Regions from separate parts of the Homo sapiens genome. Here regions 1 and 2 are each reported to be linked to region 3. Evidence: microRNA targets listed by miRTarBase, many of them from high-throughput screens and not tested one by one. Region 3 holds a microRNA gene; each other region holds the end of a gene's coding sequence.

Region 1 (5,000 bases), not on the chromosome of region 3:
TTTCCCCATCTGAGGTGGGGAATGTTGGGAAGGGGGACTTCCACTCTTACCAAATTATCTGATTCTACTAAATATGACCGTTGTACTAAATAGGAAAGGGGGCGCATCCAAGTTTCCCATTAGTCGGAATTTCCACCAGCTCAGTTCTGCTCATTAAGGGCCGAGTGACTTTGTGGGGAACATATCTGGGTTCCAGTTTTTATTTCCACAGAGCTCAGCATAAACTATTTTTGTTTAGTACATATGGTTTATTTGGGGACTGCTTATGGGAGTTTTGACCTGGCAATTGCAGGGGAGAAGGCATGACCCAAATTATTTCCGACTGCCTCGCGCCAATTTGGACCGCTTAGAGGAGGCAAAAAATGGGCAAATTCCTTGGAAGCCCTGCTGTGTCTCCCTGGTACTGAATTTTGTAAGCACGCGATACAGGAGACATTGAAAATTAAAGAGGAAGTATCTCCCTCCTCCAACATGGGGAGAGACGCTGTTGGAAGAAGTTTCTGAAGTGGTTTCCCATCGCACCAAGAGGCCAGTGGGATGGATCCCCGCGCATAATTCAAAGGAACGCGCGCGTCTTTAGCTCTTCGGGGTTGGTAACCAAGTGGTCCGGCCGGGCGCAAGTCGCCTTGGAACCGGCTGCAGCCCAAGTCTAGCTGGGCCCGGGACTGAGCGGCACCCTTGGCCTCTCAGAACCTTTCTCGCGGTGAGTGGAAGGGCGGCTCCGCGCGCGGGCGCTTCGGGGCCGGTCGGTTGCGAAATCAGGGGGTGGATTTTCATCTACCCAGGAGCCGCTAAGCCCGTAGGGGACCGAGCATCACCCAGGCCCTGGGTACCCTGAGTTGCCTCCTGAGCCCCAGGACGGTCCGATGGTGCAGAGCTCCCAGGCAGAAGTTAGTTTCCTGATACACACACAGCAGTGAGCAAAGTGCGCACAAGTGAGCCAAACCCTGAAGACGCAGGTTCGCGGACTCCCATCCCAGCGTTAGAGTCAAGGAGACAGAAGAGAGGAAGGAGAGAAGTGAGGAAGGGAGAGAGATTATGAGAAAAAGAGATTATGAAAGTAGAGAAAGAGATTATGAGAGCGAGATTATGAGAAGAGAGAAAAAGAGAGATTTTGAGAGAGAGAGACAGAATGAGAGAGATCCAACTTTCAGTGTCACGGGGCCTAGGCGGGGCAAGCGCCCTCCGAAGCCATCAAAGACAGGGGTGGCTTTTTCTCCCCTCCTCCAGCCTCCTCCCCAATAGATATAGCACGAATTTTTAATGCGTCTTCCTTTCACAGACAACAATACAGGGTTTGAAAGCCGGACACAATTTAGGTTTTGTGCGGGTCCCTCCTCGCGCTCCCTCGGCCCAGCTGGCCATATGGAATCCAGCATGGAGCCCGTGGATGACAAAGGGACCCAGTGACAGGCCCAACAAAACCCCAAGGAGACTTCTGCCTGACTCCGGGATTCACTGCCGGCGATAAGCGCGCTGAATGGTGCGGGGTGGGGCGGGGGGTGGGGGGCGGGCCCCTTCTCCTTCTTCCCCTCTCTCTGTCCCCGCGATCCTTTCTCTGTCCCTTTTTAATATGCACGCCTCTAACATCTCCGGCTCCCAGCTTTCCCATTGTGCGGTTTTGTACCGCCCGCTGTAGATTGGGCGAAGATAGACTGCTGAAGCGGACCCCGCGCCGGGTGCGCTCCCAGGGCGCTGGGGTTAGGGCCACACAGGGCTCCGCAGGCGCTTTTATTGACTCCATGGGGACCCGAGGACAGAGAGAGGCGGGCGCCGGGTCCACCTCCCGGGCTCCCGGCCGGCCACAGGAGCGCACACCCAGATTGCAGGCCCGCGGTCCTGGCCACAGCTCCAAATTTGTCCTCAATGAGCAAGTGGTGGAAGCCTGCCAGGGTGAGGACCTTCCACGCTTCCCCCTTCCTCTCTGGAAACCTGAGGGTCTCTTGTGATCATTCTCACCCTGGAAGCCCTGGGGCCTGGAAAAGTCAAAATGGCCTCAGGCCTTCTGACAGCTCCGCTCCAAGAGACTTGAAACCCTCACCTTTCCTCCCAAGAGGATTTTGGGATTAGGGGAAGTTGCAAGTGGATGTTGAGTGGTTAGTACCAGGGCAGGTTGGGCGTTCAATTATTGCACAACAAACTATTTGGGAGAAATTCGTTGGCCTTTAAAAACAGTAAGACATAAGCCCCCAAACATTGCCAAGCTAGTGTGGAGAACAAAGGGAGACCTTTTAGCATTTAGAAAAACTGCCCTTTCCCCGAGGATGAGCCCGGAGATGGGAAAGGACCTTTACTGGGGTATTAGAAAGACTTCCGAGCCCTCAATTATCCAGGGGCGGTGTGGAACGCGGGAATAAAGTGTCATCGCGTCCCTGGGCTGCTGCGCAGAGTGCTATCGACGCACAGATTTGGTCGCACGGATAATCATGTTTGCTTTAGATATTGAATTAAACCTGATCATCAACTACAGGGAGCGAGAAAGTCAGCTGGGACCGCTCCTTTTGCCCGGCCTCCTCACTGCCACCCAACCCCCCAGCCTTGATGGTGCAGCTTCGGAGAGAACAGAGATACAATTTCCAAATGCGCCGACGTTCAGTCCCTCAGCGTCTGCAGCACCCGCTGGGCTCTGAGCTAGAGTCCCAAGTATTTTTAGAAACCCGCGAGATAGAGGAGAAAGGCTCATCCTCCAGTTGGCCAGGCTTCCTAAGACGCTCCCCCGCGTGGCCAAGTGTGCGCCAGCATCTGCCAAGGAGATCTTCCTCCAGCAACAAGGGTGGGACGGAATCCGTTCCCCGCCGGAAAGATGGATGCGCCCTTCCCGGGCGTGCCCGGGGCTGTGTGCCCACTTCCCATCCGGGGAGCTCACCCCACCCCCAAACCTCTACTTCCTAGCAATCCACCCAGTTCCACGCTCAAGGGCTGACCTGGGGGGACCGCACACCCTGGTTCGGACCGCCGAACGCTGGAGGGAAGGAGGCCCGGGATCCAGTCCCCGGAGAGAGGCCTGGAAGCCCGGAAAGGATGGGAGCGTAAGGGAAGGGAGAGGCATGGTTTGCTGGGATTGCCAAAGATTCTCGCTCCCTGGCTTCCTGGGGCCAAAGATCCTAGGGAGGGCTGCAGTATCCCCTCCCTCCCCCGAGCCCAGAACCCCGCGTACTTCCCCCAAGCCCCCTAAGCCAAAGCCTCGCGCGCCCTGACCGTTCCCACCCCCAGCCTTAGCGGTCTCCTAGGTCAGCACCAGCCCGCAGATTTTGAAAAGGAGTGGGGAGTGGGGAGAAGGCAGCCAGTCTTAACCTCAGACCCCCACCCACCCACTTTCTTAGCGTGAGGTAAGTCAAATGTAACAAAGTGAAAGTCATCGAGTGTAGTGGCTTCAACAGCTTCTCAGGCTGAAGGAGCCACTCATAGATTTGGGCCAGCGAGGGGGGTTTGCTCTCCTCGCCTTTGCGGCTCCCGAAGTCACTTTTCCTCCCGTAGCCGGACGCTGCCGCCCGGGGTTCAGACAGCGCGCGAGACCAGGGGAGATGCGGGGGAGGGTGGGCGGCCCTGGGCTTCCGGCCGACCGCTCGCAGGCCGGAGGCCGAGCGTTCTCCTCCCCGCCCCAATCCTAGGCGCGGGGTGCAGCCTGTGGTCGGAGGGGCCTGCACCGGGAGCCCCGCCCGCCCCAGGGCCCCGGTACCCCCGGCCTCCCCGCCCGAGAGGAACCGCCTGTGGGAGCCCCGCGGGCGGCCGGGCCCGGCTCCCAGGCCCAGGCCTCCGGCCCGGCGCAGTAGGACAAACGGGAGGGCAGGGATTTTTTCTTTTTTTCTTTTTTAAACACAGGATTTTTATTAAAATTCTTATTTAAAAAATCGAAAGCTTTCTGCGCCCGGCGCTGTTGGGGAACCGCGCCGAATAGCTGAGCTCCAAGTTCGGGGCTGAAGGCCCGGAGGACAGGGCAGAGGGCTCCCTGCCTACAGGGTTTTCTTTTCCATATTTGAGAAATGTTTGCACAATAAAATAAAAAGAGAAAGGAAGAAAGCAGGGGAAAACGCAAAAACAAAAACAAAACAAAAAACAAACCCAAACAAGCCACAAAGAAAGGAGTTGGACCCAGACGGGAAACAGGCCGGTCCTGAAGGTCATTTTGGCAACAATCACCACCGATATTTACAACGAAAAGCGAAATCTGCCACCAGTTGTCAGAACGTTTACATGGCCATAAATATTTAGCATTTTCTTATTTTTTTTTAAAAAAAGGAAGAAATTCTCTGTATTTTTAAAGTGTTCTCCACTTGCTTTAGAAGACGGCTGACAATATCGCTACTCACACAAACATATTTTACAAAATGCACGAAAGCAGGGGTGGGGGGTCGGTCTTTTTCTCGTTTTCAAGTGACGACATTAACGCTGGGACGGTTTGGTCCCCCCGGGGAGAGGCAAAGAAGCGAAGCTGCGCAAACATTCTGTAAACACGGCGTAGAGTTCAGCCCTCTCCCAAGGTTCAGAAGGAGAGGCATGGGCAGAGCTGGGTGGGTGGAATCTGCCACTCCAAGGAGACGCAGGCAACCTCCCGGCGCCTCCCTAGTGGAGCCGAGAGTCAACTCGACTCCATAATAATAATTATAATAATAATAATAACCACCATAAGGACCGAGGCCTCCTCGCCGCCACCGCCGCCGGGGTGGGGCCTGGGCCTGGGGCCGCGAGTCTCGTTGGGGCGGCGCTCACCAAGTCCACTGCTGGGCCTGGACCAGGGGGTGTGCTGTCGGGTACTGGGGGGTGCTGGCCGAGCTGTACTGGGCGTTGTACTGCATGTGCTGCAGCGACTGCGCGCTGTAGGCAGAAAAGGGAATGCCCGCCTGGAAGGTGGCGGCTGCCAGGTCCTGGGCTTTGAGCGCGTGACATGGTTTGCCGTCCCTGACCAAGACGGGCACGGCCACCCGGCGCGGCGAGGGCAGGGGCGTCACCTCCATACCTTTCTCGGCCCGGGCGCGCTTCATCTTGTAGCGGTGGTTCTG
Region 2 (5,000 bases), not on the chromosome of region 3:
GTGATTTCGGTCTGTCCCTGACTGTCCTGTGAGAATTGGGGTGTGGGGTGCACCTACAACCTCAACCAGCTTTCCTTCACTGCTCCTTTGCCCTCCCAAAGGGAACCCGGGGACCCCAGTGGTCTGGTGAGGGGCACTTCGATCCAGGGATTGGCTGGCGGGAGGGAGCCAGGGGTTCAGCAGGGCCTCCGAGATCGCCCCGGAAGCGCGGGGCTCGCGGCCCAGCTCGGCAATGCTATTCTCACGGCTTCCTTTGCCCTCTCCCCCCTCCCTTCTGCCCTCGGTCCCCACCCCCACCCCACCCCGGCCCTCTCCGCCGCTGCAGGTCCGCGCACCAGGAAGCTGAAGAAGAAGAAGAACGAGAAGGAGGACAAGCGGCCGCGGACCGCGTTCACGGCCGAGCAGCTGCAGAGACTCAAGGCGGAGTTCCAGGCAAACCGCTACATCACGGAGCAGCGGCGGCAGACCCTGGCCCAGGAACTCAGCCTCAACGAGTCCCAGATCAAGATCTGGTTCCAGAACAAGCGCGCCAAGATCAAGAAAGCCACAGGCATCAAGAACGGCCTGGCGCTGCACCTCATGGCCCAGGGACTGTACAACCACTCCACCACCACGGTCCAGGACAAAGACGAGAGCGAGTAGCCGCCACAGGCCGGGGCCGCGCCCGCGCCCCCTCCCGGCACCGCCGCCGTCGTCTCCCGGCCCCTCGCTGGGGGAGAAAGCATCTGCTCCAAGGAGGGAGGGAGCGCAGGGAAAAGAGCGAGAGAGACAGAAAGAGAGCCTCAGAATGGACAATGACGTTGAAACGCAGCATTTTTGAAAAGGGAGAAAGACTCGGACAGGTGCTATCGAAAAATAAGATCCATTCTCTATTCCCAGTATAAGGGACGAAACTGCGAACTCCTTAAAGCTCTATCTAGCCAAACCGCTTACGACCTTGTATATATTTAATTTCAGGTAAGGAAAACACATACGTGTAGCGATCTCTATTTGCTGGACATTTTTATTAATCTCCTTTATTATTATTGTTATAATTATTATAATTATTATAATTATTTTATCCCCTCCCCCACCGCCTCGCTGCCCCCGCCCAGTTTCGTTTTCGTTGCCTTTTTCATTTGAATGTCATTGCTTCTCCGGTGCCTCCCGACCCGCATCGCCGGCCCTGGTTTCTCTGGGACTTTTCTTTGTGTGCGAGAGTGTGTTTCCTTTCGTGTCTGCCCACCTCTTCTCCCCCACCTCCCGGGTCCCTTCTGTCGGTCTGTCTGTTCTGCCCCCCTTTCGTTTTCCGGAGACTTGTTGAGAAATACGACCCCACAGACTGCGAGACTGAACCGCCGCTACAAGCCAAAGATTTTATTATGTTCAGAAACCTGTAGTCTGAAATAAAGTGTACACTGTGCTCACGAGCGCTGGCGGCTCTCCTGTTTGCGGGCTCGGGAAGGACGTGGGTCCGGGCACACAGCGCCCCAGCGCCCCTGCGCACGCCGGGCGGGGAGCCGGCCGGGCCTTGCGATCACCGCACAACGAATGCAGGGCGAAGGGGAAGCGCGACCCAGATTTGGGTTTAGCCTGGGTCTGAAGGGTCTGGCGGGACACGCCTGGTCTCCGATTGCGTTCAAGGGAACTCAAAGGCCGACAACCACAGTCCTGGCTTCGGAAACGCTGCCTGGGCTGCGGGGCAGCTCCCCGCACCGGTCCAGGCCCAGCCCAGTGGCGGCCTCCTCCTGTACAAACTGCTTTTCACTCCAACCTGCACTTTTCTTTTTCTTTCTTTCTTTTATTTCCCCTGGTGCAGGTTTTGCTGCAGATTTTTTTTATCCAGAGATAGAAGGGGGCCTGCCTTCCTCCCTCCCCGACAGCCCGCTTGGGCGAGGGGCACTTTGGCCTGGCCTCTTGGCCGCCTGGACTCACTGCACTTCGTTTGCGGGAGGGCTTCTGTTGGCGAAGCAGCAGGTCCGGGGGCGGCCTGCGGAGCCTCGCGGGGCTCGGATCTCCTGGGCCCGCAATGCCGGAGGAGAGGAGGCCCAAATGCTGGGAAAGCTGTTCGGAGTGGCTGCTTGGGCCTTGAACCCGAGGTGGGCGCACGTCTGCCGTATCTGGGCCCTAAACCAAAGAGGGTTCCCTTAGGCATCCCAACAAAGCCTAACTTTCTTCCTCACCAAGGGGGGCGCACATAGAAGCCCCCAGGGCCCTCAGGACACCCTGGGTTCCCAGAAGGAAATGTCTGGCCTCTTGCTGCTAACACTGGGGCCCATCCTTCCAGAGCAGGAGCTGCTCTCAGATCTTAAGAGGTTAAGGGGAGGAAGGGAAGTTTCCTTCTCAGGAGGTATTATCTTTGTCCAGGATTTTTTTAAATTGTAAATTCCACTCCCACATTTTTTCTCTCTTCGGCAATATGTATGTATATACCCACACGTGTGCAGCTAGACGGGCAGGTGCCCACACATACTTGTGTGCATATACAATAATGTGCAGATATTGGTGCACCTAAGTTCCTACCAGTTTTTTGTGTATTCCTGTACCCGTGAGTATTGTGCAACTGATTTTCTTCTCTAATTAGATACACAATTGGACGTTTGTGAGTTCACTGTGTGTACATGCATGAATTTGTGTTTGCACACTGGAATGTCTGCAGGTGTGTTTGCTGGGTTTGTTCATGTGTGAGATCCCTGTTCTCTGTGCTCTTCCCTTGAGTTTCTCAACTGTTTTTGTAGGATTGATTTTGTGCAAAATGATAATGGCTAGTTATTCCACCTTTTTTATTGAAAAATTTTCCCTGATTTGGCCCAATGTACTGTTTGCTCCTGGCCGGGGAACTAACAGGGCTAGATCTCAATCCCAGGAAGCCTAGGTCCCCTCCAAATCCCTACATAAGGGTTTGGCGGCTAGAGTGGAATTGGAGGGTGCATTTGACACTGCTGTGGGTTCCCAACTTTATTGCAATTAATTTCCTTCCTTCCATCTGCCCATTGTTTTCTGGAGGAGTAACTCTTGCATATAATAGGTGCTCAACCAATCTTTGTGGGCAGAGTTAGAAGCAGTGAGATGGGCCCTTCCCTGGGGTTGGTCTAGGGGAGTTGTTTTCTGGTAGTCAAAAGCCTGTGCTTTGCTTGCCTTGGGGAGTGGGCTTGGACTCTTCAAGCCTTCCAGGCTTTCCTGTTAAACAGTCTGAGGCCTGTGTCTTGGAGCACCCTTCTCCTAATACCTCTCAGAATTTCAGGAAGAGTCCCATTCCATTTCACCCTCCCAGCACATCAGATGTGATGTTAAGGATGCTCAACTCTATATATTGGAGAACCTTACTATTTTGAATGTCTAGGAATTGGCTACACTCCCTTCTCCCCTCCCTATTGTGGCCTCTTAGGATATTCAAGTCCCCCAAGACTACCAGGTCCAGAGGCTGGGACAGAGGTCGGTGTGAGCAGCAACTCTAGGAACCACCCCATTCCTCATGCTCCCCTTCCTCTATCCAAGAGATCAAAGTCAAGAGCTCTTTCCTTTAACCCAGCGAGAGGAGGAGAAGGTGGTCACCCATCCCCATGATTGTGTCAGTAAAGTGTATAGACGTGAATGTCATTATTATGTAATTTGCTTTCTTGCCCATTATCTCCTTTTATCTTCCAATCACTATGGGAAAATGGATTTTTCTTCATTGTTCAGTGAAAGAACATGAAGCTCTGAGAACTTAAACATTTTGTTTGTGCCTCCTCCTTGACTATGTATGTCTAAGTCGCATCGACCTCAAGGATCTGGCCAAGGCCCTGAAGCCATCATCCAGGATGACTTTCCCATCTTCTCTCCATTTTTCCTTCTTTCTGATTGGAGTAGAGGAGAGGGGAGGAGGATTCTGGTGGGACCTTTTTCTTGCACGCCCTTTTAAAAAAAGAAACTAATAATGATCATAAACGGGCATTGATTTCTCTGATTTATGGGGCTGGCTTAGTGAGCCACCTGTGTATTCAGGTCTGGGGCTGCAGTGAAATAAATACTTGAGCACGCCATCCCAACTGCCTCATTTTCTGCTTTTCCTTTTTTTTAAAGATTGAATTGAACCATAAACTTAAATCTTCCTCAGCCTAAAAGGAAATACATGCTAGCTGAGTCTAAACAGTATTGATCCCTGGTTCTTTCTGAGGGCAAAGGTCTCTGTTTTCTTGCTGGAAACTCTCTTTTCTTCAGTAGGGTTAGGGGGAAGGCCATGGATGGGGCTGAGGGAAGGAGGAAGGAAAGTGGAAGGAGAGGGTGTTGTGGTATTTGGGAATGTGGGGTTGCTTGGTGTGATTGCGTTGGTTCGTGTGTATTCGTGGGTTGTACTGTGTGTGGGCATTTGTATAGGGATGGTACTGAGTATATTTATTTAGGTTTGGGAGGTGGAAGTGTGTGCTTTGGGTATATGGCCTCTAGTAGTGACTGTTTGATGTCTGTGGGTGTGTGTATGTGTACCCAGTTCTTAAGCTCCCTAGATGGGGCTGCCCAGGGAACAGAGCAGTGACCTGCTAGCCTGTACCCTCCCAGGCCCCTACACCCATCTGTCACCTGTGGCAGGGTGTCTAGAGATAATACCATGGGGGAGGCCACTGTGCCCCAGGACACTCCAAGCCCCAACACACACAGTAGAAAAAAGGCCCCAAAAAGGGCCAAGCTACAAGGCAGGGGTGAGCTTTGGCTGTCTCCTGGAGGTCCAGGAGATGCAGGCCAGGGCCACACTGCACCCTGGATGAATGTGTCTGCCGCAGCTACTGTGGGATGGCCATCAATTCCTTCCATGGTCAGCCTGGTTTTTCCTTTGTGTGAATGAGACAGGCCGTTCTTCTGGCGATCTAGTCAACCCACTATCCTCTGCTTCCACCATACAGGGGAGCAGGGCAGAGAAGGGCAGAGAGGCATCCAGGTGTCCTCCCCAGCTTCACCTCAGAGCCTGGACCCTTTTAGTCTGGATGTCACAGTGGGTTCAAATGGAAGACTATGCTCATCCCCGTCTGTGGGAGGTGGCAGAG
Region 3 (5,174 bases):
ACCCCTCTTGTGTCTGTGACAGAAATACTTTCATTCCTTCTTTAACAGATTTTTAAAAAGATAGAAAGAGAGGGAGATAAAACAGGTGTCCATGGTTCATAATCAGTCTAGACATTTATGAACTTCTTTTTGAAGAATCACAGATAAAGGTATAGGCTATAACCCATAGTAACTTTCAATTTAGTAAACATTTTAAAATCTGATTACCCAACTATGGAACAATGGAAATAACTTAGTTCAGATTCAGCCCACAAATATGTGGAAATATGTTAAATTTCTGCAGAAAATGAATCTATTTAATAAATGTAAAGGTCGATTTCATCTGACTCATCATGTATGCTTCCTAAATGCCCACTGGAAAGGTGAAGTGAAAAGCACATGGACGAGACAAAGAGGGATTTGAAGAAGGGAAATGGGAGAAGTGCATATTTTTTATAGTTTCTTCTTTCTTTTCTCTTCTAATCCACTCCTTTTTGGATTCTCCATATTTTAACATGATTGGCTGAAAATATACATTTCTGAGCTTTGGGGCTATTCTTACTCCTTTCTCCCTTCACCTCTCTCCTTTCAAACCTTTCATACTGATCTTTTAAAAGATTGCTGTTAACCTGGCTTTCTTTCCATCCTCTCTAAGAGAGGATGAGGTTAGACCAAGATCTCATTTGCTTCATCCGGTTGGGGATCATAGTTCCTAAGAGCTAACCAAAGCGCCACCTTGGAGTGGCGCTGGATTCAAGTAGCCAAATCTCTAGCACAGCTTGTGAAGGTATCACAGAAGCTATGTCTGGGGAAAAGAAAAAAAACAAAACAAACAACAACAAAAATTGAGTTCAAAATTTTTTTCCATGCAGCTGTACTTTTATTGTAACCATTAGTCCTCATCAGAACATTTTTAAGTATAAATTCCTTCATCCCTGAGGATATTTTATGTTTTATATTGAACATAAGAAGGGAGATCAAGGAATAGATATCACATTCATGAGCTTACATTTAAGCAAGACAGTCTTTTCTAAAGGAACAAAACGCTATTTCCTAAAAGACATGTAAATATAAATGCTGACAAATAAATTAGATGAAAGTTGTTCCTATTTTTAATATTGGGAGGCATCTGATGCATAATGGTAGTCATCTTTAATACCACCAAAGTTTGCCAGAGCATAGCTAAATGCTATTATTACTCCAGAATTATTTGTTTTTTATTGTTATAAACTGCCTGACAAAAAAGAGAGAAGTAGTAAGAGCGAATCACTATAAGCAAGGTATACAATGACTTAGTTGCCAGATACTGACCCAAGATTGCTTTAGACTCATTCAGCCTCTTGCCCTTGAATATCCATATGTTATGTAGCCACAGTTATAATTCATCATGATTCCATGAAATTGCAGAGCTACAGGTTCACACAGATTAAGTTATATTTTGTTCCCACTTTATCCTCAGGCAGCAAAATATGTTACATATGTTTCAACAGCAATATTGAAATAGAAAAGTGTTTCCTATTAGACCTGAGCAAATCAGAAAACAAAATAACCATGAAAATCACAGTTCTCAAATAATTGACTTGTAATTTTATCCTATGTATATAATGTTTGTAGGCGGTCTACTAGGGTACTTCAGTTGTTATTTTAGAGAATATGATAGGCGAAAACTCAGAAGCCCAGAGATAGAAAATAATTAACTAAGATCAGTAAGAAAGTGACCTTAATATAAATGAACTGAGGCAGGCAAAGAAGTCTATCAGATCAGGAAACATTTGATTTGGATCATAATCAAATAATCAGAATAATTTTATTCATTCTCAGTCATAAGAAAGTTAAGAAGGTAGCATAAACAACATTTTTATCATATTTTCCCTTTTAGATTGAACATACTTTTTTGAATAGTGGTGTGTACCAATCATTCTGCAATGTGCTTTGATAGACTACCATATTTCATGATTGCATTCTCTGCTCCTTTTAGGCTACAGATCAGCAGTTTTCATGTTTCACCCCTGTTTCCATTAGAAAAGCAATTCAAGTTAGATATAATATTTAAAATGTAGGTTTTCGTTGTTGATGATAACTGTTTCACTCTCTCTTGTTTCATCTAAAAAACACAAAAGTCTTGTTTTAAAACAACCATTGTATGATCACGACTAGGTCAGCAATTGAGCAGGATTTATCACAGATGGCTCATCTCTGCTCCATATGGCTGGGGTGGCTTGACTAGGGCTACACTTACATGCCTGGAACTGGAGGGTAACCAGTCAATTGGGGGTACCTGTGTTCCCCACATGGCCTTTTTCTGCAGCAGAATAGTCTAGACTTCTTTATCTCTTGGCTGGGTTCCCCGCCTACAGACGTGGAAGCTGCAAGTCTTCTTTAGGATCAGACTTGAAAGACTCAGACATCATTTCTGCCTCATGGCGTTGGTAAAAGAAAGTCACAGAACCAGCTCAGATTTAAGTTTGGGAAATGGATTTTGCCTCTTTACGGGAGAAGTAGCATGCACATACACATAGGCATGGGAGAAGTTTGCGGTGGCCATCTTCACAACCTACCACAATTATAAGACGAAAGCATATTTTAAGTTTAAAAATTTACATTATCTACATTTTCATTCTCTGCTTTCTTCCTCCTTTCTTCCACAGATGCCTGTATATTATTACCCATCTGGTCAGTACCCTACCTCAACCACGCAACAGTACCGGCCCATGGCCCCGGTTCAGTACAACGCTCAGAGGAGTCAACAGATGCCACAGGCAGCACAGCAAGCAGGTACTTGGAATCTGTTTCCCATTTGCTTCTCAACCCAGTTATTTTTGCTGGTGAATCTTGTACTCTTTGGATGAGTGTCCAAGCTTGGCAATTTAAACCAGCACATTTTCTCTACCCAGAGAAGATAACAAAGCATTTGATTGACTCTGTGTGGAAAAGTAGTAGGTACAAGAAGGTGAAGCATATGTCAGACTAGCATCCCTGGCATGCATGTTAAACAGTCTCCATAAATTATTTTTTGATCCTTCTTCTGTTAAAGCAGAAAGTCAACCATGTCCGTACCTTTCTAGTTCATACCTTCTTTTAATTTTTTTTTTCTTTTCAATTTGAAGAGAGTGCTTCCTCTGTTCTTAAGGCTAGGGAACCAAATTAGGTTGTTTCAATATCGTGCTAAAAGATACTGCCTTTAGAAGAAGGCTATTGACAATCCAGCGTGTCTCGGTGGAACTCTGACTCCATGGTTCACTTTCATGATGGCCACATGCCTCCTGCCCAGAGCCCGGCAGCCACTGTGCAGTGGGAAGGGGGGCCGATACACTGTACGAGAGTGAGTAGCAGGTCTCACAGTGAACCGGTCTCTTTCCCTACTGTGTCACACTCCTAATGGAATGCCGTTATCCAAAGAGCAGCACGAACCCGACAGGGCTGAGTGGCTTGTGCTAGGGAGAGGTTTGTGTCATTCCTGCTGACCAAACTGCAGGAAAAACTGCTAATTGTCATGCTGAAGACTGCCTGACGGGGAGACTCTGCCTTCTGTAAGTAGGTCATGTAAAGAGCACGTGCTCCTTGCTGCTACTCATAGATGCCTGCTCCGTGATCTGATTTCTGCACTGAATCTATGTTATGCATATGGAATGTATACAGATACATGTATGTAATATATACACAATATGTACCATTTTTATAACCTATGAGAAAAGTGCAGTTCTTGCCAAGGATTAGCACCAATCACAGACATCCTAAGAATACCAATGCTGACACTGCTAGCATCCTGTCAGATTGGAGAAAGAATTAAATTCCCCCGTATTGTGGATGGTTACATGTTCTTTGGTTTATCTCATGGCCTATTTAAAGTCTGTGGGAGAAGAATTAGAGAAACCTATATCTTCCAGCCAGATTTTGTCTTGTTTCAGCACTGTATTAGTTTGGGGAAGAATATATTTGACCTCTGAATTGACTTTAGACTTTTACAGTGTTTTGAGAACACTAAAGGGTTTCAAATAACTATTTATTTTTAAAAAATCACTTGGCAATATTTTCTCTAATTTGTGGAAAACGTTATTACCTTTATCATTTTGGTGGTAACGGTGCTATCAGTTTAGATACATGCTGTAGAAATGTGTTGCTTGCATTCTGGACTATCTTATTTTATGCTAACGTTAATTAAAGGGTTAATTTACAATCTTGAGGATCTTGGTTTAGAGGCTATGTGCAAGTTTTCTACTTGGTTACTAATGCCTTTAGAAGAAAAAAGATGCAGATATCTAATTATAATGATTTTTATTAGGTTTGGTGCCATTGTGTGGCAATTTTTAAAGAGATTATTTCAGTCTTGTGGTAGAGTGTCATCATACAAAGAAACGCAGTTACAAAACATGCTGCAATCCACTAAACCCATAAACTCTAGATCTATGTGAGGGGATGAGAAAGTTAGATGAATATGATAACTGGGCAACAGAATTAGATTTCAAAAAAGTTTAGGCCTCCCCCACTGACTTCTCCATTGCTTTTTCTCCTCTTCACTAACTTTGTTAGTGGATGTCAAAACAAGAGACAATATATGAGGCATTTTTTACTCTTTAATAAAGCACAATGGGAGAATTTAGGGATGTGGAAACACCCTCTCCCATTCAGTTAGAGACCTCACTGGCTCCACCTACATTCCATGGCAACCTGGTAGCTTTGGTTTGTCACATTCTCCCACATCACCGCAAAAATGACCCTCCCAAGGTAAGATAATGACACTGTAATGAGAAGAGTGCACTCTAGAGCAGCATCAAGCTAAATATAGAAGCAAGGCAGTGCCTAGGGTGTCAAGGAAGTGAGTGCCAGTTAATGTGGCCTGTACAGGGTGAGGAAGTGAGAAAAGTGAAATGATCATAAACAGTATTGTCCCCAGAAATGATGGCATTAGTATACACATGCACACTGAGACCTTTGGGCTCTTAGTTTTTGTGACCACCACACTGGATACCTGGCCTAAAATCCCAACACAGTTTCCACCACAGTGATGAATGTACCTAGTATTTGGGAAAGCAGATGGTGTTCCCTGACCTTACAGAGAATCACTTCTGCTAATAAAATCCAAGTAACCAGACCACACAGTGGCTCTTTGAGAGTGCACAGAGGCTCTGGGTCCTACAGCTGGGCGTCCTTTTGTTGAGCCTAGGGAGACTAACAGAAACTTTCCAAATGGTCAT

Evidence for each region. The annotated mature microRNA hsa-miR-128-2-5p reads GGGGGCCGAUACACUGUACGAGA and lies in region 3 at 3,279-3,301, shown strand. An mRNA with a match to its seed (bases 2 to 7 or 8) in the 3' UTR can be bound and repressed. Matches are read on the target gene's strand: a 7mer-m8 pairs with bases 2 to 8, a 7mer-A1 pairs with bases 2 to 7 and ends in A, and an 8mer does both.
Region 1: the mRNA of NKX2-2 is a reported target of hsa-miR-128-2-5p. Seed matches in the 3' UTR shown: 8mer at 4,678-4,685 and 7mer-A1 at 4,665-4,671.
Region 2: miRTarBase lists EN1 as a target of hsa-miR-128-2-5p. Seed matches in the 3' UTR shown: 7mer-m8 at 700-706.

Annotation. Positions count from the first base shown.
Region 1 is chr20:21,507,217-21,512,216 of GRCh38, forward strand. NKX2-2 (NK2 homeobox 2) reads right to left here. Exons shown (of 2, transcript NM_002509.4): 2 at 3,801-5,000. The coding sequence ends at 4,707. Among named protein-coding and RNA genes, the nearest start is that of NKX2-2, 4.3 kb to the right of the region's middle. RefSeq lists enhancers at 697-2,167, 1,265-1,784.
Region 2 is chr2:118,838,580-118,843,579 of GRCh38, reverse strand. It overlaps EN1 (engrailed homeobox 1), which reads left to right. Exons shown (of 2, transcript NM_001426.4): 2 at 326-1,409. The coding sequence ends at 642. Among named protein-coding and RNA genes, the nearest start is that of LINC01956, 4.9 kb to the right of the region's middle. RefSeq lists an enhancer at 757-1,337.
Region 3 is chr3:35,741,212-35,746,385 of GRCh38, forward strand. MIR128-2 (microRNA 128-2) reads left to right here and starts at 3,265; the gene lies at 3,265-3,348. It overlaps ARPP21 (cAMP regulated phosphoprotein 21), which reads left to right. Exons shown (of 21, transcript NM_001385562.1): 19 at 2,628-2,754.